6 separate regions of the Homo sapiens genome follow, and regions 2, 3, 4, 5 and 6 are each reported to be linked to region 1. Evidence: microRNA targets listed by miRTarBase, many of them from high-throughput screens and not tested one by one. Region 1 holds a microRNA gene; each other region holds the end of a gene's coding sequence. Distances are from middle to middle.
What was found. Region 1 holds the annotated microRNA hsa-miR-6504-3p (CAUUACAGCACAGCCAUUCU, at 2,565-2,584, shown strand). A microRNA usually pairs through its seed, bases 2 to 8, with sites in the 3' UTR of a target mRNA and lowers its output. Matches are read on the target gene's strand: a 7mer-m8 pairs with bases 2 to 8, a 7mer-A1 pairs with bases 2 to 7 and ends in A, and an 8mer does both.

Region 2: the mRNA of PFDN2 is a reported target of hsa-miR-6504-3p. Seed matches in the 3' UTR shown: 7mer-A1 at 370-376.
Region 3: miRTarBase lists SLC16A10 as a target of hsa-miR-6504-3p. Seed matches in the 3' UTR shown: 7mer-m8 at 2,191-2,197 and 7mer-A1 at 2,798-2,804.
Region 4: miRTarBase lists YY1 as a target of hsa-miR-6504-3p. Seed matches in the 3' UTR shown: 7mer-m8 at 3,134-3,140 and 7mer-A1 at 583-589.
Region 5: the mRNA of ZKSCAN7 is a reported target of hsa-miR-6504-3p. The part of its 3' UTR that is shown has no 7-base or 8-base seed match.
Region 6: miRTarBase lists TMC7 as a target of hsa-miR-6504-3p. Seed matches in the 3' UTR shown: 8mer at 2,946-2,953 and 7mer-m8 at 2,020-2,026.

What each region holds. Positions count from the first base shown.
Region 1 is chr16:81,608,823-81,612,954 of GRCh38, forward strand. It overlaps MIR6504 (microRNA 6504), which reads left to right and starts at 2,526; the gene lies at 2,526-2,586. All of the region lies in intron 2 of CMIP (c-Maf inducing protein), which reads left to right.
Region 2 is chr1:161,096,836-161,100,967 of GRCh38, reverse strand. It overlaps PFDN2 (prefoldin subunit 2), which reads left to right. Exons shown (of 4, transcript NM_012394.4): 4 at 109-407. The coding sequence ends at 285. It overlaps KLHDC9 (kelch domain containing 9), which reads right to left and starts at 2,607. Exons shown (of 4, transcript NM_152366.5): 1 at 1,906-2,607; 2 at 1,463-1,622; 3 at 1,172-1,370; 4 at 622-907. The coding sequence starts at 2,432. The coding sequence ends at 744. RefSeq lists silencers at 2,184-2,233, 2,294-2,473.
Region 3 is chr6:111,221,790-111,225,921 of GRCh38, forward strand. It overlaps SLC16A10 (solute carrier family 16 member 10), which reads left to right. Exons shown (of 6, transcript NM_018593.5): 6 at 214-4,132. The coding sequence ends at 446. Among named protein-coding and RNA genes, the nearest start is that of SLC60A2-DT, 35 kb to the right of the region's middle.
Region 4 is chr14:100,276,948-100,280,947 of GRCh38, reverse strand. YY1 (YY1 transcription factor) reads right to left here. Exons shown (of 5, transcript NM_003403.5): 5 at 1-3,530. The coding sequence ends at 3,348. It overlaps MIR6764 (microRNA 6764), which reads right to left and starts at 3,591; the gene lies at 3,531-3,591. It also overlaps a transcript of SLC25A29 not described here. RefSeq lists an enhancer at 1,635-2,615.
Region 5 is chr3:44,570,917-44,575,048 of GRCh38, reverse strand. ZKSCAN7 (zinc finger with KRAB and SCAN domains 7) reads right to left here. Exons shown (of 6, transcript NM_001288590.2): 6 at 2,891-4,132. The coding sequence ends at 3,674. The region is part of intron 2 of ZKSCAN7-AS1 (ZKSCAN7 ZNF cluster antisense RNA 1); the gene reads left to right. Among named protein-coding and RNA genes, the nearest start is that of ZNF660, 12 kb to the left of the region's middle.
Region 6 is chr16:19,061,454-19,065,453 of GRCh38, reverse strand. TMC7 (transmembrane channel like 7) reads right to left here. Exons shown (of 16, transcript NM_024847.4): 16 at 1,512-3,676. The coding sequence ends at 3,611. It overlaps COQ7-DT (COQ7 divergent transcript), which reads left to right. Exons shown (of 3, transcript NR_119381.1): 2 at 1,415-1,649; 3 at 2,559-2,700. Among named protein-coding and RNA genes, the nearest start is that of COQ7, 4.2 kb to the left of the region's middle.

The DNA of each region.
Region 1 (4,132 bases):
AAGAAGACCTGCCTTGCTTTTTCTTTTGGGATCATTTTATTCCTAACTTGTTTTTCCAGGGAAACCTTCTCTTAGCCCAAAGAGATGCTTTCTAAAAACCTATTTTAGATCTAGCAGCCACTGGATTGTGTAACAGCATTGGGCTGAGAGTCACCCAGTCTGGGCTCCAAGGAATGCTGAGCTCAGTAGCGGAGCGTAACAACTTAGCATTGTTAGAAATGTCCTGTTTCTTACTGTCATCTCTCAGAGGACTCTGGAAACCACGCCTGCCCCAGTCTGCTTTCTTCTTAGTGAATCTCTCACACTCTGCCCTCTACGCTTTTCTTTTAACCCTGTCCCCACACCCCCACACTGTCCCTCCCCCCCTCCCCACCACAGCCAGCAAAGCCTTCCTCTTCTTTCTTTCTCTCCTCTCATCTTTATGATAGAGGTCAGTGTCACCCTCCTGCCAGACACTTCTGCCAGCTCCTCTGCCTCTTCACTCGCTCCTTCTTGCCCATCCGATGGCTGCAGCACAGAGTCCATGAAGGGGGTGGTCAGTGCCAGCCCCCCTCGGCGGGGGAGATGGGGCGGGCAATCACAGGGTTCAGTGGCCAACGGAGAGGTAGGGTAGCCAGAGATTGTCCTACCCCAATGACTTTGCTGTAGTCACAGAGCTTTGAGGCAGCCTCTCCCCTGTGCTCGGGGAGGCCCCATGCGTGAAGAGCCCCTCAGCCCCTGGGGAGACAGAGCCATAAACAAATGATTACGGAAATAATGGCTAAATTAGAGGCAACCGTGGAGGACTGGGAGCCCAGAGAAGGAGGAACTTATTTGGCCTGGGGGGCCAAAGCAGGCTCCCCAGACAGGGGGCATTTGAACTGGGTGTAGAGGGATGAGTAGAAGTGTGCCAGAATGGTGGGGTGGGGGCACACTCCCCGGGCAGAGGGGATGTGTGTGCAAAGCCTGAATATGGGGGACCTGGGTACTTGCTGCAGCTGGAGGAGATGGAGAGATGGAGTTTGGGGCTGTGGATATGTCTAGATCTGTTGGGCGATGGCCAGATCACCCAGGCCTTGCCAGCCAAGTGAAGAAGCCTCAGACCCTCTTCCAAAGGCAATAGGCAGCCACTGAAAGCTCTGAAGGGGTAGAGGGACACTAGAGGAATCAGTGTGGTGGCAGGGCAGAGGGGCCTAGATCTGTGCATGACAGAGAGGCAGGAGGGAGCCCCTTGAAACATTCCAGTTGGAGGAGAGGAGGCCCTGAGCCTCCACTTTCCTGCTCCACCAGCAAAGGGGCCTCATTCCTTCTGGGGCTGGAGGGGCAGCCCTGGCCTCCAAAGGAGGCCAGAGCATCACTCGCCACAGGGATGGAGGGGCAGTGAGGCTGAAAAGCAGAGAAGCAGTGCCTGGAATGTCCCTTTAACCCGGCTGTGGCCGCGGGCCCAGCTGTGATGACTCGCCTGGCCGCCGTGTCTGGCAGGGCTTCAGGACAGAGCTGCCGCCGTGGTGCTGAGGAGCCGAGCGGGCGGGGAGCCTCTAGCTGCTCCAGCATCCCACTTGCTCACTGCCCCCTGATCCCGTGGACAGCGCAGTCAGAGGCAGGAGCAGGAGAGGAGGAAGCAGAGGAAAAGGAGGAGGAGGAGGCGGCTTGCAACTCCTCAGATCCAGAGCCGGACTCCGAGCTAATGAGGGAGCAGCAGACACGGCCTCCCAACCCTTCCCCCAAGGGGAACCCAGGTGGGTGCAGCCCCTGCCCCTGGCGGCTGTGGTTCTCTCCCTGGCTGCCATTTCCGTCAGGGGAGGTAGACCTGGATCGGCTTCTCCCTTGCTTCCCTCTCATCCTCACCCCCACACTCTGCCCACCGTGATGCATGGGTGGTATGTAGCTGGCTCATTCTATAAACAGGGCTAGCGAGTCTGTGTGGTTCTAGGGAGGCTGGGGCGGGGTGCACTTGGCCCCTGGTGTGGTACTCAGGGCTTTCTTCAGTCCTGGTTGTATTCACGTGCCTTTTGTGACGGGTGGCAGGACCCTCTGCTTTGAGAGGCTGTACTTTGTCTTGATTCACATACAACATACTGTATTAGATCCCAGAGCCGTGGTGTCACAGAGAACAACCCCTTTGGCCCTGGGGACAGATCTTCCCTGCTCCAGGGTGGGAGAGGGGACCAAGAAACAGCCAGGTGCCCATCTGAACGGCATTACCTTAGTGCTCCTAGTCAGCAGATGAGTGAAAGTGCCTTAAATGGTGCCGCCCGGCACAGCCACCAGCAGCCACGCATGGCAGCCCACAGATGGATTTAATTTACTCATCAAATTAATAACACAGTTCCTCAGTCCCGTTAGCTACACCTCCAGTGGCCAGGGGCCACACATGGCCAAAGGCTGCTGTGTTGGACAGCGCACATAAAGAACATTTCCATTGACACACGAAGTTCTGTGGAGCAGTGCTGACCTCGAGGCCTTTTCATTTTGACCTCATACTGCAGGCACCTGAGCCCCTCCTGGGGCGAATCACGTCAGATCACAGGGGGCTCTTCGATCTTGCAGTCTGGCTGTGCTGTAATGCAGTCTGCACCCTGCTGCATTACAGCACAGCCATTCTCTCTACAGACAAGGGGAATGGCGGGGCCCAAAGAGGGCTAGTGCCCCTTCCCTACCCCAGCCTGCCTGATCTCTCTCCATCTCTGTCTCTTTCAGGTTCTTTGCATCCATGTGTGTCTGTTTTCCTCTCTCTCATGCCTTTTCTCCATCTCTCTCCCCTCCTTCCCCTTCTGTCCCCTCCTGCCTCTCCTCTTTCTCTCTCTTTAGTCCTTGCTGTGGCTCACTCTGGGCTTCTCTTGCAGGTCCTTCCTCCAGGCCTCTCACCACCTCTGAGCCTGTCCCCCAGTCCTCTCTGTGTGTCTCTCCCCTCTTCTCTTCCTCCTCCTCCGCTCTCTCTGTCTTCTAAGGAGCTCTTTGTAAAACTCTTACTTTGTTAGAATTTGAATCAATGCCTCTTGCAGACCTCGGGGAGCTGACCTGATCCTTCAAGGAAGGCAGAGAGGACATTCAGGCCCATGCCCCTCATCCCCAGCTCAGAGACAGAGCAATCTACCAGCAGGTTGAGTTGGCAGACAGAGGCGCCCAGCCTTCCAGCGTGGGTCCAGTTGGTGTGTTTTGGATGCTTTGTGTTTTCAGCGTGAGCTCCCTCACTGCCATGTTATTAGAATCCCTCGTTGCAGAAAGGGCCTGTTTATCCCATTTCCTCCATTGATGCCCTTTCTGCTAGCATTTCATTGTGGGGAGGCCAAGCATGTAAGTACATAGACAGTGTCATGAAAACGTCCTGAAGGTGCTGTCACTGGCCCCTGGGATGGGGTAGCAGGCATTAAAGAGCAGCGCGGCGCAGATCATCTTCTGGGGGATTCTGCCTAAAAATTGAGTGGCTGCCCATCAGCAAAAATTAGACAGAGCCGCTGCTCCACAAACAAGGCTTCAGGCAAGATAAGAGCAGGGAGACCCTCCTCCCAAGAGTGTCTGCTTCTTTCGGGGATGGGTTCCGGGACTCGGCTCTTCTCACCAATGTTCTGGAAAGTCCTGCAGGAGGCGGGGCAACTGTTTACCCCAAACATTGGCAGCAGGGCAGGGACGGGGTGGGTTCCTTTCTTACTGGAAGGTAGCAAGCAGGACTTTTCCGGTCTGGAAAGCACCAGAAAGGTCTCACTCTCTAGCTTCCAGTAAGAAAGGAAGCTCCTTTTCCCTAAGAAACTGGGCCGGGGAAGGGGAGCTTGGAAAAGGTCGCTCACAGCGCACCCTGGGCTGTTTTTCTCACCTCTCAAGACAATGCAACAATGAGAAAGAACTTGGCAAGTTTGGGAGAGGAAATTGGGCAGCGTTTGCCTGGAACCAGGCCCTTTCAGCATTCCAAAGATTTAACACCAGAAGTCGGAAGCCTGGAACCAGCTGCCCGCAGGCTTCCGGGGGACTTGGGGTCTGGCTGGGGACCTCTCCCATGTCTGAATGGATTCTCCTCTGAGTGACCCTCAGGGTTGGGCTGGGGGACCTTTCCCAGGTCTGAATGGATTCTCCTCAGAGTGACCCTCGGGGTTCCAGCCATGCCTTATGTTCCCACTGGGCTGAGTTCTCTTGGCTCAGCCACCAGCAGGACAGT
Region 2 (4,132 bases), not on the chromosome of region 1:
GTTAAAGGTAAGGTTAAATGTGTTAACACTTCCTCCAACCATAGTCCATTCCAGGTGGGGGAAAGGAGTCCTGAATTCCTTATATAATCCCTGTCACTTGTCCTCTAGATACAGAAGATCATTGAGACACTGACACAGCAGCTTCAGGCAAAGGGAAAAGAACTAAATGAATTCCGGGAAAAGCACAACATTCGTCTCATGGGAGAAGATGAGAAGCCAGCAGCCAAGGAAAACTCAGAAGGGGCTGGGGCTAAGGCCAGCTCAGCTGGAGTGTTGGTCTCCTAGGGACCAAGGCCTTTGCATTTTTTTCTACCCTGACTCCCACTTCTAATTTCTCTTTATTGTTATTATTATTATTTTCTCTGCTATTGTAATATTTTTTTGTTAATTAAATGTTTTGGTCAGAATCTTAGCTGTAGCCTGAAGTTTTCTCCCACTTGGGGGTGGAAATTGTTTTGAGACACGGAACAGCATATGATGTGTGGTTTTTGTTTCCATCAGGTTAATGACTCATAATATGAGAGTAGGACCCATATTTATTTTATCCTTTCCTTGCAAATAAAGGTATGTCCACTTATTTACTGCCCTTCCCCCTCCCCCCAAAAATTTCAGAGACAAATCTTGAGTCTCAGATTGAAATTTAATAAGCATTTGAAGTGAAGCAGATAGCTCTGGTGATAACGCTTTATAGGTTTGCAACAAAGCAAAACAAAACGAGGCTTAGTGATGTGTCTTGGCACTATTTAGATAAAGTCCAGGATGCAAACCTGTGGACTGGCTGTCCTGCCATCCTCACCAAAACCCCCAACCAGGTAAAGCTGATCATTCCAAAGGCAGGTGCGATGGCCCATGCGTTTCATCCCACGATCTGCACAGGGGAAGTGGAACCACAAAGGAGGAGATGTGCCTGTTGGATACGGGCAGAGGGTGGTTATTGAGGCAGTAGCACTTTGTCATTCACAGAATTCAACATGACCAAGGGCTTGCCCATTGTTTTTCTGCTCACTTGATTTGTAGGCCTCTTCAAATGCTTAATATTCTGTGTACTCCTTTAACTCCTGTCAACTAATTTTTCCTCCTCCCTACCCCATCACTCCATCCTCTTTCTGTAGTCTTCAGGTTCCCCCATCTTCCCACCTTCCCCCCCTTCAGCCATTAGTCTGGCTCTCACGAGTATCATAGATGTAGAGATCATTGCAGATGGTGTCTCTAGCTCTGGTCAGAGTTTCTCCACCAAACAGCACAGCAAAGGGCCCGACCACAGAACATGAGTGATGCCGTAGTCCATGGGGCCCCTTCTGGGACCCCTGCCCACTGCTCACAAGCCTTGCAAGCTGTTCCATCAAATGAGGAGCAACAGGTGGTTCCTCCTTGGGGAGAAAGAAAGGACTGTCCGAAGAGACCTGGGCATCACAATTTTAGCCTCTTCCCATCCTAAACAAGATGTGTGAGGAGCTAATACCTTAATTTTCCCATGACTCCAATGCCCAGCTACTTCTGGTTCAGCTAAGTTGCAACCTCCAAAGAGCAATAGCTGATGACCTGGATGGGGTCCAGGAGTTTGGAGCAGGGCCGCACAGTGACCTGAGCGTGAGGCTGTGTGGCAGCCTTCTTGCTTGTAGCTGTGGACATGCAGAAATTCAGGGCTGAGTGGGTTTTCTGGAAAATGTAAGTGCCACCGCCCTTGCCAAGGATGGATGGAGAAGAGGCATGGGGCAGTGCGGTAGGTGGGATAAGAGGGAGGGTAATACTGTAGAGAGCTCAGCTAGCTTAAACATGGTAGGTTCCCCTGGAAGGAGGGTGCTAGAGTGAGGAGGTGGATAAATTGCCTGAGAAATCTGCTTAGGCTTTTGTTTTTCGAGAGTGTGGATGAGAGTGAAAGGTTTTGGGCGGAGGGTGCCATACCAATAGGTGCGGGCGCTGGGGTCCAGCCTTAATGTGTAGATGCTTCCATAGCGTCGCTGAGTGTGGATACCGCCCTCCCGGCCAGCCACCTGCAGCTCTCGGTCAGAGATTCGGGTGCAGGTGTGACTACTGAGGCCGGCGGGGGGGCAGTCACCAGGGGTCCCTGTCCACGCCTCCCACACACCGCGCTCTGTGTCCAGTGCGGTCACTGTGGCCAAGCGGCGAGACCCGTCCCAGCCGCCCACCACGCAGAGCCAACGCCCGTCCACGGGTGCCGCGTCGTGGTGACTGCGCGGGGGGCTGCCCCGGGCTCCCAATCGTACGGCCTGGCCCCTAGCTGGGTCGAAAACCACCGTATCGCTGCTGGGCTCTCTCGCTCCTCCTGCTAGGAGACCACCTACGAGATAGAACCGTCCCCGCAGTTCGGTGCATGAATGGAAAGCTCTAGCCAAAAGCGCGTCCCGCGCCACTGGCCTCCAGGCCCAGCCTGAGCCTGCGGCCCGACCCGGGGGCACGGCCACCGCCATGGGCCCCGGGGAGAGGGAGGGCGGTGGGGTCTGCGGCTTGGAACGAGCCCCTACATGGCAGGCCAGGCACCTCGCCTTCCGCGGGCTTCCCCGGGAACCTCCCCCTACCGGACGCCAGCCGGGGTTCCCACCTCAAGTCCCGGCTTTCTCTCCGTGGTCGCCCAGCAACCACTGCAGCGGCTGCAGCGCGACCGCTGCAAACCGAAGGTCGCAAAGCAGCAGTTACCGTGGAGACAGGACACCTGGGTGGCTATCGGGAACCGTATGGTGGTGCCACCAAGGCTACGGGAGCTGTATCAGGTCAATAAAAATCCTGCAAGATTGTTAACCTCAGAAAGTCGGAGGACAGTCGGGTCCTTAGAATAAACCCCTGTGATCTCCGCTGTGAACTGATTTGCGATTTTGACATTTGAGGTGCAGGTGCTGCTCCACTAGGGCCGGGAGGGATCATTTGGCTTCAGGGTTTCTTACTCGGGCTAACCACCCCAGGGATGAGCAAGGAAGGAGAAGCAAAAGTCAGAGGGTGGGGAAGTGAAAGTGGACTGACCACTGGCCCGAGAGACAGGAGACCTGGGTTCTAGTCCCAACTATGCCCCTGACCCTCAAAGGCATTGTTTCTCTCTAGGCCTTCTCAGTTTTGTCATTCATCAAATAGGCTGTTCGTTTATTCCCAAAGGCTTGAAGGTCCCGATTGATTGGGTGGGAGAGTCCTTTCAGCTCTGGCCACTAGAGGGTAGCAGAACCCAGTCTCTCAGGTGACACACACACACACACACACACACACACACACACACACACAGAGAGAGAGAGAGAGAGAGAGAGAGAGAGAGAGAGAGAGAGAGAGAGATAGAGAGAGAGAGAGAACCCACGCAGCCTTAGAAGGGTGAAGTGGGGGAAGAGTGAGAAAATGAGAAAAACAGACTCCTACCCTTCCCTGATATCTTTTATTTAAGCCAGTTTCCAGATATTAACTCTGTCCCCCAGGACCAAGTGATAACTGAAGAGGCCCAGATGCAAGCTTTCTGCTTTCAGCTGAAGGAGGAAATACAGACAGAATTTTCCTCCCAACACAGCTGGTGTGGGGCAAAAACAGGATCTGTGTCCTCTGGGACTGGGCTGTAAGTGGGAATGATGACTGCTACTTGTGGCCTTTGGTTTCTACACATCACCTTGCTCCCCATCATACCTGAGATACTGAGACCATAGAAAGTGGCCAGGCAGGAGAATCACTTGAGGCCAGGAGTTCAGGAGTTCAAGACCAGCCTGGGTAACATAGTGAGACCCTGGCGAAAGAAAGAAAGAAAAAAAGAAAAGAAATAAAGAAAGGAAGAAAGGAGACAGTGGCCAGGGCTGCAGTGAGGATGGGCATGTAATGCAGGGTCTGATAGCACAGCAGGGCTTTCCCCTCCTCTTCCCAACTCTTGGTCCTCAGAGAACACAGCATGGGGATGGCATGGGCAGGAAAGGCACAGTTACAGAGATTGGAAGATTACCAGGACCTGTTCCCCACCTGTACCTTAAAGCCAAGATTCAACAATAGCTTTGAAAGTCTCTGCCCTCCCAACTATAGCTTTCCCTGAGTATGACAGGCAGTATTCTCAGTTTTCCAAAATCATGGTAAGAATCTCTAAAAAATCACTAACTTTTACTGTCCTTGGCTGAAATTTAAAAGTCAGTCTTTTCCCTCAGGCTTCTTTCTC
Region 3 (4,132 bases), not on the chromosome of region 1:
TTGGTATGAAAATCCAGAGGACTGTACTTTATGACAACGTTAAAGATATGAGATCTTTTTCTTCCTATCAAAAAGGGTTTATATTTCAGATCTGTTTCCTAAAAAAAAAAAAAAGTCTGATGTCTGAGATGTCTGAATCAGTCCTGTGGCTGATCTAGACCCCCTACAGAGCCACACTTGTTCTCCCTTGGTGACAGCTTTTTCCCTTCTCAGGGTTACTTCGTGACAAACTGGGCTCCTATGATGTGGCATTCTACCTCGCTGGAGTCCCTCCCCTTATTGGAGGTGCTGTGCTTTGTTTTATCCCGTGGATCCATAGTAAGAAGCAAAGAGAGATCAGTAAAACCACTGGAAAAGAAAAGATGGAGAAAATGTTGGAAAACCAGAACTCTCTGCTGTCAAGTTCATCTGGAATGTTCAAGAAAGAATCTGACTCTATTATTTAATATCTTACATACCTCCACCAGACTGGACTTGCTTTTTGAATTTTAAGCAAGTTTCCTTTCCTTTTATACAAATTGCAAATTTCATATTTTTTTAATCACATCCTAGGAATAGCACAATAATTGGGAAATAGAACCCTTATCACTAGAAGAACCATTTTCTGCCACTAAATATCTCTGATGTTTCCATGAGTCTGAGGGCAGAGACTCTGGTATATGAAAACGTCTGAAAGTCACATATTGTGAAAATTTGAAGCTATCTCAGTAAAAAGCAGCTTTGGAAACTGTGAATGATCTTTAGCTTGTACAAATGTTTAAAAATACCTCAGGCTATACTGAAAGGGTTGCAGTTTGGTTAGGAGTGGAAATATTTTGTTTGTTAATGATGTCTTCAGTTCTGGTACCTCTGTTTTACTTTCTTATGCTCTTTGGAAACTTTTTGCAAAATTTAAGCCTGGGTTCTAGATAATACCAGATCTACCTAAACCTCAAGTCTATGTTAAAGTTGCTTTCCTGCTGTTAAATAAGCTATGATATTAAGATATTCTGACTTGCTCCAGTGTCAAGGGACCTTCTGGGAGCAGGTGCTAACATAGTGTTCAGAATCAATATGTGAGATGAAAAGGATCCCCTCCAGGAGGATCCTGAGCTGTTCAGAAATCATTTAAGTTTACAGCGTTGTTCCCTTTGCGTTTGCAGTGCGTTTTACTCAAGTAGCCAGAAACACCCCACGTTTCTGAATTTGTTTAAACTGTAACAATAAAGTAAAATAGAATGCATGAAAGATATTCTGGCGATTGTAACTTAGAATTTTTCTGACTTCTGGATTTGTTGGCACTAGAACCTGATATTTAAAGTCTTACTGAGCAGCTATCAAGTGGCAGTTACAGGCACAAATTGGTGGAGGCTGGAGGATGGGGAGGGGAGCAAAACCCTTTATATTTGTGAAGAAAATATCTGTAGCTGATAGAAATAATTGCTTAAATTGGTTTATGAAATTAATGAGTCTGAAAAGGTTAAAAGCACTTATAAAAAGAACCAAGTCCTACATTTCCAGAACTTTCTGGCAAAAATTTGCACTCATATTATTTATCCTATGAACATTCCCATTGTTTTTTTTTGCTATTTATATACAGATTATCATAAGAAAGCTCTCAGTTTGAGGACCCAAAATAAAACCAAAGTCATGCCATGACCCATACTCATTTACAAAAACAAGAACACTTTCCTCTATCCCTAAAATTATGCTTTAGTACTTGAGGCCTTTAAAAGTTAGTGCTTTTGATTGTGAAGACATTCAGCAACTTACTTTGTCATACATGCAGTTGCACCTTACCACTTCTAATAGTGTCATATTTCATATTCAGGGGACTTAGATAATTTGCCTGTGGATGGTTCTTTTGCAGGAAAAAAAATCTACATTTTGACCATACTACCCTTTCATGTCCTTATTATAAGCTTTTAGAAAATGATTTCATTCAGTCATGTCCAGTTATATAAAACGTTACTTTCTCATTTTTGAGAAGTTCAACAAAACATACTACTAAGACCAATCATCAAACCCACTATTATAAATGTTAATTTTGGCTGGGTAAGGTGGCTTGCGCCTATAATCCCAGCACTTTGGGAGGCTGAGGAGGGAAGATTGCTTGAGCCCAGGAGTTTGAGACCAGCCTGGGCAACATAGCAAGATCCTGTCTCTACTAAAAATAAAAAAAAAAATTAGGCCAAGCATAGTGGCTCATGCCTGTAATCCTAGCACTTTGGTAGTCCAAGGCAGGGGGATCACTTGAGCCCAGAAGTTCAAGACCAGCTTGGGTAACATAATGAGACCCTGTGTCTACAAAAAATTTAAAAATTAGCCAGGCATGATGGTGCCCACCTGTAGCCCCAGCTACTCAGAGGCTGAGGTAGTGGAAGGATTGCTTGAGCCTTGAGATGGAGGCTGCAGTGAGCTATGCCACTGTACTCTAGCCTGTTCAACTGAGCAGAACCCTGTCTGTAAAAGAAAATCAAAAACAAAAAATAAATGTTAAATTTTGTTTTAAGTTTTAGCACAGACTCCCCTCAAAACACCTTCTCCCCAATTTTACAGAAAGTAATTTAAAAATGAAAACTTTACTCTGTAAAGACCTCTACAGTGTTTTTCTTTTCAAAATTTGGCTGATTTTAGGAAAAAAGTGATCATCTGAAACTAAAAGAAATTGCTTGGTTAGTTTCCATATTAAAACAGCAGTGACAAGTATATATAACTTAGATCTCAGCATATGTGTTTGTATATTAAACTTCACATATGTAGTTTTCAGTTTAATGGAATGAATCAAACTGGATCTATAACACTGAAAAAGTTCTATTGTAATAGACTCATACGGAGAATACTCTGCTATAATAATATAAAATTAAGAAGAAAAAGTATAAACGTAAGATGCTAAATTCCATAAATGCATATTTAGTACTATGTTTTTTGTGGGAAAAGTTCTAAAAGTTTAAAATGCACAAAGAAAATGAAAAATACTAATATAAAAATTTGTGCTTTAATCTAGTCAAACTAAATCCTTTCTAATTTCTGAATGAAGTGTTACTGCTGCAATAAAGTGACCTGATAAGCCTAAATTTTTTGTGTTCAATCCAGACACTTTTCTGAGAGTCTGAAAAGAATACAGAGTCAGAACTCTGTTTTTATCTCCTCATCCTGTTTTTGATAAGACTCAGAAAATTCTCAAATTCGAAAGGTTCTGGCATTTGAGGCCAAAAAAAGCATGAAAGGGAGTAACATTCCTTTTTATAGATACTCTAGATTGGATACTATTGTAACAGATGGCCAAGAAACTTCCAGAAACATTTTGGTTAAATTTTATTGCAATGGATATTGCTGGGATCCATCCATTTAAGCAGTAATATACCACCCAGATTATTGATACTTTATGCAAGATGTGTTCATCTCTTTGATCATATTTACAATGCTTACTCCATAGCCCTGCTACAAGACTTAAAATTTCCACTGAAAATTGCATAGTTCTTGTATTAAGATTCAAATTCTGGCTGGGCGCAGTGGCTCACGCTTGTAATCCCAGCACTTTGGGAGGCTGAGGCAGGCGGATTGCCTGAGCTCAGGAGTTCGCAACCAGCCTGGGAAACACGGTGAAGCTCCATCTCTACTAAAATACAAAAAAATTAGCCAGGCGTGTCGGCATGCACCTGTAGTCCCAGCTACTCGGGAAGCTGAGGCAGGAGAAGAATCCAGGAGGCAGAGGTTGCAGTGAGGCGAGATTGCGCCACTGCACTCCAGCCTGGGCGACAGAGCGAGACTCCATCTCAAAAAAAAAAAAAAAAAGTAAAAGTACACACAGTTTAAAAGTAAACATGTTTACTTCGGATAATTCTAATCCTTTTAGCTGCATTTAAGAATATTTTAATTTATACGAATGTTACTTGAAATTGGCCTATGTCCAGATGACTTTTGATGTTAAATCAATGGAAAACTGAATAGAAAATATGACACGAGATCGGGGAGGGGGAAGGCAACCTATAGCATGGGTGGCTCTGAGGAGTTCCTGCTGGTGCACTTTCATGCCCTTTCTTATGTACCTTTTGTCTTACTCTTCTTACATTATTCTTATCCTCATCATTTTTTCATTTCCCTTTACTTCCTCCTATCCTTCAAAAACCTCCTGAAGAGTCCATTAACA
Region 4 (4,000 bases), not on the chromosome of region 1:
TATCAGGCTTCCAATTCCAAAACTTCTTTTTAGGGGGCCAGGTTTTCCTGTGCCACAAACTCTGGTCTGAGACCAGTCTGGGACACGTCTCCACAGTAAGTTTTGCAAGGCAGAGTGCAAACGGACGTGGGGCAGTCCTCCAATGTACGCACTCTCAAAACACTGCTCAGGCGGGCTTCCCCCGACTGGAAGTGACTCTCATCTACTTGTGAAGACATGAACTTGAACTCTGCTTGGAAACACGGACAGGTATTGCGCACACTATCCTGTGAAAGGGTCTTATTTAGCAAAATAAGTGACATTTAGAACTTTTACATGAAAACCAAATAGGAAAAAAAAAATCCCGATTTTCCTCAAATCCTCAGGCCTTGAATCTAGGCAAAGCACACAAACACCATATGAAACCAACAGCATGAGTTCAGGGTCATCTTGGAAAATAAATGTCACTCTGGGGTGACAGTTCTTTATACAAATAGTATGCTCCCCCTCTCAACTCCACTACCAAAAAGGGGGAAATAATAAGAAATTCAAAAATAGAAAACAACATCTTGTTAAGTGTAAACTTATCCTCTGGAGTTTTTATATTACATATGCTAGAAACATGCATTTATTTCTGCTCAGATGTACGAAAATATGTCTATCAGTATTACTTATAAATCAGATTAATCCTCAAGACAATGGACTCACTGTTAGAATACCATTTCAAACCTTAGTAAATTACATCGTTAGCAAAATTATAAATTCTAACCACAAGCAGAATGGGTTGAAGTTACACCCAATGAGAACTACCTCTACTCTTTATATTGTTGCTCATTTGTTAGTTTTCTATTGTTGCAAAGTCAGTGCTATGTTAACAAGGAACTTGTTTTCTTGGAACCCCAGATTAAACTCCTTACAGAAGTTAACTCTGCAGACTGAGAAGACGTGAACAGAGAGAGTCAAGGGGAGTGATGACTATTTCAGAGACAGGAAAGGACAGAAGAGATGACCAAAGGCACCCCCAAGGGATCAAGGCACAGAGGAAGAGGGACTTCATCCACACAGGAGCCTGGCTCCTGCAGGCCATGGCATGGCTCTCGGGGCTGCCAGCAGGGCTCCCCATAGCATAGGTGTGCTCTGCGGTGGGCCCTTGGGCAGGGTCCTGAGGACAGTGCCAGGGCCAGGCTCCAGTGCAGCACAATGTTGGGCAAAGGACTCCTAACACAGCCACGCTGGGGCTACTCAACCCGACAGTGGGGAGGGAAGGTGTGGGTGCTCACAAGGCAGGCATCCATAGAAGACGCTGCCCAGGTCCAAGTCAAAGAACTACACGTTCTCATCCGAGCCCTCGGCACTGAAGACCTCCACCATGGGCTGACCTCTCTCCTGACTGCCAGATACAGCAAAGCCTGGCTTACCCAGAAAACAGCTGGGGTCTTCTGCTTAACTCAGTTCCATCAAACTACCCAAGGGGTAACAGATTCTGGATGAATTTTTTAAAGGGTCTCAAGTTAAATGTTTCATTCATGATTCACAAAAGGCACTTCAAAATTCCACAGAGCCACAGGGTCACTGTTAGTAGGTCACCAATCCTCCTGTACAGGACCGATGGAGAAGCTCTAAGACAATGGGCTATGTGTTTCACCTGATGGGGTCCCTGGCCATTTGTAAATAAATCTCGGATATTAGCTAGTTTGTCATTTATCTTGCAGTCAAGCATACACAAAACAGAAAGACACACAGTATGTTTGCACTTTGAATAAATGAGATTTTGCTGTATCATGGCAGTTTATAAAGTATTCTCAAGTCTGTTATTTGACCTAAGATCCAACATTATAATCGTACATTTAAGAGGTTACAATGTGAGAGGTACTCATTGAGCAGAATTTTCTAATAATCTAATCACCTTGCCGATTTGCACCCAGTGTCCATTTAGAAACATGAAATTAAGCTACTGGCACTCAATTGCCACATTGCTAGCATTTAATAAGGACTCCACTAGATGGAGGAACAAGGGCTCTCAAACCAAATAACCAACGACCACAAGCATTTCCTGTCAGACAAGCCAAGGTCCTGCTGGAGCTGCCTCTGAAGGCAGCCGGCTGATGGACAGGCCTGGTCTTCCCTCTGTGTGCCCCACTGCCAGGTGGCACCTTACCCTGCGCAGGCGCTCAGCCTGCGCGGTGGTACAGATGCTTCACTCACACTTGCCGGGGGCTAAAATCACAGCCTATGACCAACCTGGCCTGGGGTGTTCTGAGGTAGTTCCTGAACTCGGGATGCCTGTTACCTACTCTCTTTCAGAAGTCAGGACATGTAGGAAGTATTAAAATATCCATGCATCGCTTTCATCAATAATCACTGTAATTGAGTGCAAAATAAAGGAAACTTGAGTTGCTTTATTTAGCTTCCAATTTCTGGGAGGCTCAAGAATTATAAGTATTCTGGACAACAAAAGAAAATAAGACTGTGCTTACAGATCTTGTTCTGCCATATTCTTGCTTTAGGATTGCTATTTTATTGTTGCCCTTTCTGTTACATGGGATGTACACATCAGGTGTTAAAAGGTACAATACATTCTACAACTGAGCACCACTTTCTGTAACTGAACAGGCAAAGAAATTACACTGAACATCAGCATCTGGCAGTATTTTTTTGGAAAAAAAAAGTGACTAAAATGGGTTTAAATTGATTAACACTATTAAATCACATCTAATATTTGATACTACATGATTCAATACAGCTATACGATACAATTATACAAAATGTGTTAACATCAAAGAATACAACCAAAATTAAGATAGCAAACAAAACCTATATAACTTTTTTTTTTTTACAGGAAAATACTTTTGAAGTATGCATGTAACTGCCCATTCTTTTAAAGAAAATCTACTGCAAGCAAAGTTATCAACCTCCAGAAAAATCACACGTAGCATTACTAAGCATATCCCCAAAAAAGTGTACAATATGCACACTTGGAAAATACAAAATTAAAAAAATTGTAAGCAACAGGTGAGCTTCATATTTATAAGAATGTGAAAAGAAGTCCCATTTTTAGCACTGTTGTATAAAGAATTGTCTTTTGATGCGAAGTTCATGAATTGTCCTCCTGTTGGGACCACACTTTACAAAAACACTGTGTTTTTGAAACGAGATTACAGAGCAAGATAGAGCATCTTAGCAATGTCATCTTAGTAAAGTTTTTTTTTTTTAATTTTTACTACTTTATCAAAACATGTCCCTTAGGTGTGTAGGATTCATTTTTAAAATTCTTCCTAGAAATAATATACAAAGGAGAGGCATATTTATTCCCAATCACACTTCTGGAAGATGCTTCCCGTGGTCGAGAAGGGTCTTCTCTCTTCTTTTCACTGGTTGTTTTTGGCCTTAGCATGTGTTAAGATGTGAGATTTCAGGTTAGTTGACTGAGCAAACTTCTTATTACAACCATCGAAGGGGCACACATAGGGCCTGTCTCCGGTATGGATTCGCACATGTGTGCGCAAATTGAAGTCCAGTGAAAAGCGTTTCCCACAGCCTTCGAACGTGCACTGTCAAGGAAAGACCAGAGATCAACCCACTCAGCAACTCTGACCAGACCCTGGGAGTCAGGAGCTCACTGCTTTGCTAGAGAACAGCCTATTTATTTTACCAAACACTTTTCATTCCTGCCCTGGGTGAACTTTGTGGATATAGTCTAGAATCAGCAGGCAGGTTGGACAACCCCGAAAACCCAAGGAGAGCCCTCACGAACTGTTTAAAACACTTGGCAAAATGGCAAGTCTTCCTAAATGCAGGCTAGAGTCCTAGTGCTGCTGTAAACATTTCCAACAGTAAAATACAAATGATTAAGGGTTCTGGTGTCAGTTGTCAAAAAAGAACCACGTTAGATTTACTAGCTGCACTGCTAGTTCTTTCACTTATTTATGGGCTAAAGTATTACCTATACTTACACTCTAGAAACTTTATCAGTTAGTAATTATACTATTAACTACCAAAAATAAATTACTTCAATCCTGTA
Region 5 (4,132 bases), not on the chromosome of region 1:
AACGCTGGGATTACAGGTGTGAGCCACCACACCTGACTGGACCCAGAATTTGAACATAGGTTGCTGGGCACAGACATGTTTTTTGTTTGTTCATTTTGTTTTGTTTTGTTTTTCTTTTGAGATGAAGTCTTGCTCTTGTCACCCAGGCTGGGGTATAATGGTGAGATCTTGGCTCACTGCAGTCTCCACCTCCCAGGTTCAAGCAATTCTCCTGCCTCAGCCTTCCAAGTAGCTGGGATTACAGGTGCCTGCCACCACACCTGGCCAATTTTTATATTTTTAATAGAGATGGGGTTTTGCCATGTTGGCCAGGCTGGTCTTGAACTCCTGACCTCAAGTGATCCACCTGCCTCAGCCTCCCAAAGTGCTGGGATTACAGGCACATGCCACCGTGTCCACCCCAAACCTGTGTTGTTAACCACTATATTACCCTGCTTCCTCTAGAAATAATATTAGAAGGAAACTTCCTAAACGCAACAGAATATTTATCAATATCCAACAATGAACGCAAATGAAAATGTGAAATACTAAAAACATCCCTCCTGAGATTTTAGAACAAGACATAGAAGACCTGTTATCTACTACTCAACATTTTTGGAAGTTCTTGCTAATGCACAACATAAGTGGCATAAGATTGAAAATAAGGCCAGCTCACACCTGTAATCTCAGTACTTTGGTAGGCCAAGACAGGCGGACCGCTTGAGCCCAGGAGTTCAAGACCAGCCTGGGCAACATGGTGAAAACCCATCTCTACAAAAAATATCAAAAAATTAGCTGGGCATGGTGGCATGCACCTGTAGTCCAAGCTACTTGGGAGGCTGAAGTGGGAGAATCACCTGAGCCTGGAAAGTTGAGGCTGCAGTAAGCCATGATCACATCACTGTACTCCAGCCTGGGTAAGAAAGTGAGACCCTGTCTCCAAGAAAAAAAAGAAAATTTAAAGCTAAAGGAGCCATTAATTTATTATATACCTAGAAAATGAAACTAAAAAACCATTAAAACTAAAAATAATTCAGCAACATAACAGTCCAGATTTAAATTTTTTTTAAGTTTATGCTAGCAGTAACCAATAGAATTTGAGGTATGGCTTTCAAATGCAGCCAATTTTCCTCCATTCAAAAGCCTCAGGCTTTTAAGGATGTCAAGGCACACACTGGTGTAGAATTCCCTACATCTACTCTTTTTTTCCCTACTATTCCCACCTTAGTTATGAATAGTGCAGGTTTCCAACCTCTAGAGGGTTAGTGTGGTAGGCGATGAGCAGACAAGAACCAGAAGGTAAAACTGCAACATCCAATAAGCAGGAACGTTCTATTGAAGACTTAACCAGAAATGTCCAGCTCAGGGTAGAGGGCTGGACCCATGTGCTCATATAGGGTTGGGCTTGTCCCTGGGATCTGGGAGCTTCCAAACTAAAACAATGAAAAAGTCCTATCTGCATATCTTCTAAAGGAAAATGGAAACACATACTAAATATAAAGTTGAAAACAAATTTAAAATATATATTCATAAGTGGCAAATTTTCAGTTCTGTCCTGGGTTCAGTGTTTTCAGGATTCCTATTATTCTTTCTAAACTTGCCTGAGATATGTCCCTAGAATCACATCTAATCTTATTTTCCTATGCCTCAACTCCACCCTTTCTTCTATGTTAAAACATACACCACACCTCAAAAAAATCTCCCCTCCAGATTATATAACTCGCATGGCTCCTCTAGCCTCCTCCTCTACTCTGTCACACTGTGGATCCTCTAAACCTATTAAGTTTAAGGGATGGAAAGAGAAGGAGGTAGACAACAGAGGCAAACGTCCCCCAGATCTGGGCCATATTGCAAGGGTGGAAGGGAAAAGTTGTTCAAGCTCATGGACTGACATGTGATGGCAGAAGGACAGAAAATCTTCTGAGATTTCTTTTCTTATGTCTTCGGGGAATGAAAAGATGGTCCAGAAGACAATTATGATAATTAAGGGTACAGCTCTCATCTTTAAATTAAGATGGCAGTTGTAGGTAGATAGGACTAGTCGATAAGGAAAACAGATTCCTGTGAATCTATTATCTTGCCACAAGCCTCGTCATAGTGAATTCCAAGCATCAGGGAATGCTGCTAGCTGGATTTTCAATAATCTGTACCACTGCTATGAAAGTCAAGTCTTCGGTGCAGTAAATTTTGACACAGTTCTTTTTTTTTTTTTTTTTTTTTGAGACAGAGTCTCGCTCTGTTGCCCAGGCTGGAGTGGAGTGGTGCGATCTTGGCTCACTGCAAGCTCTGCCTCCCAGGATCATGCCATTCTCCTGCCTCAGCCTCCCGAATAGCTGGGACTACAGGCGCCCCCCACCACGCCTGGCTAATTTTTTGTATTTTTTAGTAAAGACAGAGTTTCACCGTGTTAGCCAGGATGGTCTCCACCTCCTGACCTCGTGATCCGCCTGCCTCAGCCTCCCAAAGTCCTGGGATTACAGGCGTGAGCCACTGCGCCCAGCTGACACAGTTCTTAATCTGTTGATTTAGGAAGCAGGGTACAGTTAGCAAATTCAGAACTAGAATCAGCATGTAGGGGAAAGTCCGTACCAGTGGGATATGACTGCCCAACCCAATACCTAGATACACACACATTCACACACATACACACACACACACACTCTCTCTCTTTTGCATACATACACACACACACACACACACACACACACACACACACACACACAAAATCCATTCGCATTTTGAGGCTGAAGTAACAGTAGTAAGACTTCCAGGAGTATATGTAAAAGATATCAGTAAGACCTCTGTATGTGATATTCTATGATGAGATGGACTTCCATCTTTAGAAGCAGCTGGTCCAGCTGGGGAGGGGAGAAAGATCGTGCATACTTTAAGGATAATTCAATGTGAGAGCTGAGATTTTAAAAATTATTTATTTAACAACTGGTATGTACAAAATACTATCTATATGGGAAAGAAATACATACCTGACCTCAAAGAGCCTACAATAAGTTGGTATAAAAGTATACAGACACGCAAAATTTACAAGGCAATTAACCACAGTTACATATTGTAGCACCAGTGAATTCAAAGCACTGAGGTCAAATCAAGAGAAGTTGAAGAAAAATAAAAAAGTACTTGAAGAAGAAAGTATTTCAGTGATGAGATGGATTTCAAAAATTGTGAGGGACAAAGATTAGCAAACAGAAGAAAATGTTTTCTAGATAGGGAACAAAACTGATGAAAAGTTATAGATTAAAGTTTAAAGAGTAGATGGGGAGGGCCATAGCCAAGAGGCAGGAAGGCATGAATCAGCCTTTTTGAATGACTTTGTATAAATGGTGAAATGGAGGAAGTAGAATAGAATAGAGAAGATATTATCTCTGTCTTTAAAAAGCATGGAGTCTGATTATGAGATGCATAACTAAGAAATGAAATAGATTTTAAAAGTTAAAATTTAAAAGTAAAGAAAAAAAAAGGAAACCTACAATTCAATGACATGTGTAGTCCTTACCTTCCTAATAATGGGTAAGAACTGGAATAAGTTACTCCTACTCTCCCACCTTAGTGATCCAAGGAAAAGCAAGTAGGGAATGGTCCACCGTGACTACTGGCTCCGGGAAACCACTATGAGCATCCTGCTTATAAAGACAGCTTAACTCAAAGGTCGTTGCTCTCTGTCTCAGAGAACCATACCTTAAGAAACTGACCAAGCCAGACCTGAGGACTTCTCTCCAGTGTGAGTTCGCTGGTGGTGATTAAAAGTGGAACGCTGACTAAAGGCTTTCCCACATTCACTACATTCATAAGGTTTCTCTCCGGTGTGGACTCTCTGGTGTACAATAAGCTGTGAGCTGTCACTAAAAGCTTTCCCACAATCATTGCATTTATAGGGTTTTTCCCCAGTATGGGTTCTCTGATGTACCATAAGGCTGGAGCTATAACTGAATACCTTCCCACACTCATTACATTCATAGGGTTTCTCACCAGTGTGAATTCTCTGGTGTATAATAAGGTGTGAGTTTTGATTGAAGGATTTTCCACACTCATTGCATTTATAGGGCTTTTCACCCGTGTGAAGTCTCTGGTGCCGAATAAGACATTTACTCAGACCAAATGCCTTACCACACTCGCTACATTCAAAAGGTTTTTCTCC
Region 6 (4,000 bases), 63 Mb from region 1:
TAAAAAGAATTTTGCCAGGATTAACAGTGCGTGCCCATAAGTGCTGCTTTTTAAGTTTTTTTCTCTGTTGCTTTTGATGTTCTCTGTATTTGCTATAAAAAACAAGTATTTTTATAATGGCAAAACAAAATTTAAAAAACAAAAATGCATACTATTCCCTAATTCCATCCCCCTACCCACCAAATTATCCATTAAAAAAACTAGTTCCAGCCAGGCACGGAGGCTCACCCCTGTAATCCCAGACTTTGGGAGGCCGAAGTGGAAGGATCACTTGAGGTCAGCAGTTCAAGACCAGCCTGACCAACAGGGCAAAACCCCATCTCTACTAAAAGTACAAAAATTAGCTGGGCATGGTGGCACACACCTGTAGTCCCAGCTACTTGGGAGGCTGAGGCAGGAGAATCACTTGAACCCAGGTTGCAGTGAGCCGAGATCGCACTACTGCACTCCAGCCTGGGCAATAGAGTGAGACTACATCTCAAAAAAAAAAAAAAAAAAAAACACAGCCAGGCACAGTGGCTCACGCCTGTAATCCCAGCACTTTGGGAGGCCGAGGCGGGCAGATCATGAGGTCAGGAGATCAAGACCATCCTGATGAAACCCTGTCTCTATTAAAAATACAAAAAATTAGCCGGGTGTGGTGGTGGGCGCCTGTAGTCCCAGCTACTCGGGAGGCTGAGGCAGGAGAATGGTGAACCCGGGAGGCAGAGCTTGCAGTGAGCCGAGATCGCACTACTGCACTCCAGCCTGGGCAATAGAGACTACATATTAAAAAAAAAAAAAAAAAAAAAACACGGCCGGGCACGGTGGCTCACGCCTGTAATCCCAGCACTTTGGGAGGCCGAGGCAGGCAGACCACCTGAGGTCGGGAGTTTGAGACCAGCCTGACCAACATGGAGAAACCCCGTCTCTACTAAAAATACAAAATTAGCTGGGTGTAGTGGCGCATACCTGTAATCCCAGCTACTCGGGAGCCCGAGGCAGGAAAATCGCTTGAACCTGGGAGGTGTAGGTTGCAGTGAGCCAGTATCACCCCACTGCACTCCAGCCTAGGCAACAAGAGCAAGACTTCGTCTCAAACACACACACACACACACACACACAGAGAGAGAGAGAGAAAATACATACACAGGAAAACCCAGTTTCCAAAATTTCAGGGAGACTGATTTGAGTAATAATAATATTCTGGTCTCCTGTTTAGCCAGCTCTGCATGTATCAAACGCTTTCTCTGTTGCAATTCCTCTGCTGCAATTCCTCTGTCTTGATGAATGGGCTGTATCCAGGCAGCGGGCAAAATGAACCAGTTGGGCAGTTACACACATACACCCTCCTTGGCTTCAACAGAGCCAAGGAGCTTTAAAAGCACTCATCTGAGGACTACATTAAACACTTCTTTCTTTTCTCTCATTTTAGGAAAAAGCAAAGAGGAACTTTACAAACTATTACAGTTTTCCATCATCACTTGACTGCTGACAAGAAGCCTCTTTGAATTCCAGTATACACGATCACATTTTAAAACCTTCAAGACGCCGTTTAATCAGGAGTTGTAAGGCACATTTGTTAGAGAGAGCTGCACTTTAAAAGTTATACAGACATCACCTGAAGTTATTAAAGTTATCAAAACATATTAAAAACCTTCAAGTAAGAGGTATGCATATTAGCAGCATTTAACTAAAATTAATATATTAATTAGCATATTTCAGTATCACTTTTATAATAGGAAAAAAAACGCAGTACGTTTTCGTTGTGTTCATCACACACACACACACACACACACACAAATAGAAAACTTGAATATCATCAAGTCTGGTCACAGTGAAAATGTTATATAAATATAAAGGCACTGGGCAGAAATGTTTACAATTACAACTTTTTTTTTCTTTTCACCTATCTTTTTTTTTGAGATAGGGTCTCCCTCTGTCACCTAGGCTGGAGTACAGTGGCACGGTCTCGCACACTGCAGCCTTCACCTCCCAGGTTCAAGTGATTCTCATGCCTCAGCCTCCCAAGTAGCTGGGATTACAGGCACACGCCACCATGCCTGGCTAATTTTTGTACTTTTAGTAGAGACGGGGTCTTGCCACATTGACCAGGCTGGTCTCAAACTTCTGACTTCAGGTGATCTGCCCTCCTTGGACTCCCAAAGTTCTGGGATTGCAGGCATGAGCCACTGTGCCCAGCAGAATTTATTTTTTTAAGTGAGACTGGAATGAATCTTTGGTTACTCAAAATTCCATGACACCAGTTATTAGATTTAGACGAGATCAGGCATTTTCAGGGTGGTATGACTGTAGTTATTAGATTTAGAAACCCATAAACCTTACCAAGTCAGGAAAAGACCGAAAAGCTCATTGGTATCCCAGTTACAAAAATATTCCACTTTAAATAATATCTTTGTGGAAAAGCAAGAAAATGGCTGTAAGAAAGGGACGAGAAGATACCTTTGCTCCTCTGAGCAAGGATTCAGGCATTTTTGAGTAGTGGAGTGGAGATGGCCGGGAGAATTATTGTTAACAGCAACAGCTTTCTAAAACCTGCACCCAACTTTAAATTCCAGGCTACTCCCCAGGAAACGTGTGGAGCCAGTGAACGGAAGAAAAACAATGGAAGGAAGGCTTGAAAAGTCCATTACAAAACTACAGTCCTTTGAAAAAGATTTCAAAGATATTAAAATGAAAACTGATTACATTAAACAATAACTTAAACTTCTGTTCTTCTGTTAAAAGGTTGACATCTATCAATTTTGGGTAAGCTTACAATGAGGTATTTATTGCATATGGTTTTTACCATAACGGAAATCTTAAGAGATATTCTACATTTTTTTTTTAGGGAGAGTTTTGCTCTTTTTGCCCAGGCTGGAGTGCAATGGTGTGATCTCAGCTCACTGCAAACTCCACCTCCTGGGTTCAAGCAATTCTCCTGCCTCAGCCTCCTGAGTAGCTGATATTACAGGCATGTGCCACCACACCCAGCTAATTTTGTATTTTAGTGGAGACGGAGTTTCTCCACGTTGGTCAGGCTGGTCTTGAACTCCCCAACTTAGGTGCTCCGCCTGCCTCGGCCTCCCAAAGTGTTGGGATAACAGGCGTGAGCCGCTGCGCCCAGCCACATGTTTTGTGAAATAAAGGCACATGCATTAAAAATTGTAAGCACAGGAAAACAACCCTAAAAAATGTGGACGTGTGTGTTTAAGAAACCAGCCTCCAATTCTGTTTGTTATACACTCATGGGCTGGTCTGATTAACAGGCTGAGCTTCAGTCCACAACCCAAAACACTTGTGCACATAAACTCGTGGCTCAAATACTAAACTACCGTCTCCGCTCTTTCATTCTTGTAAAAGCTTGAATGGCTTGTTGGTTTTTGGTAGAGTTGTCACAGAGTGGCCGGTCTGCAGGCAAAGCCTTGGGTTTCCCCTGCTTTTCTAAGTCACTGAAGCCCTAATTAAGGGCTGGGTTAGGTAAACACAGCTGCACATATGGAAAAGCCTAAACTCAAGAAAAATATATTTTTAAATGTCCACTCAAAACCCAGGTAGACTCTGTAGGCTCAGCAGAATCACTAGGTCAGCTTAGAAGCAACAGGCAGCACCATCTTCACGCTCAGTCTAGTTAGTTCCTCATGTCCCTTTGGGCTTCTGTTAGTTTCTGGATTAGGTAGCACTTGTCACGACTTTCCTAAAAAATAATAAGTTCACATGTACATTTAATATATTTGGAAACAAATACCATCATTACCTACCAGACTGAGGGCTGAGGATTCTAACCACTGGACTATTGTAATGGCCTCTCATCTGGTCTGTCATTGTGTCTGCTCCACAGCCCCTTGTCCACAAAGCAGCCGATCCTTTTTTTAAAAAATGCACAGTACAGCTGGACACGGTGGCTCATGCCTGTAATCCCAGCACTTTGGGAGGCCGAGGCAGGTGGATCACCTGAGGTCAGAAGTTTGAGACCAGCCTGACCAATATAGTAAAACCCCATCTCTACTAAAAATACAAA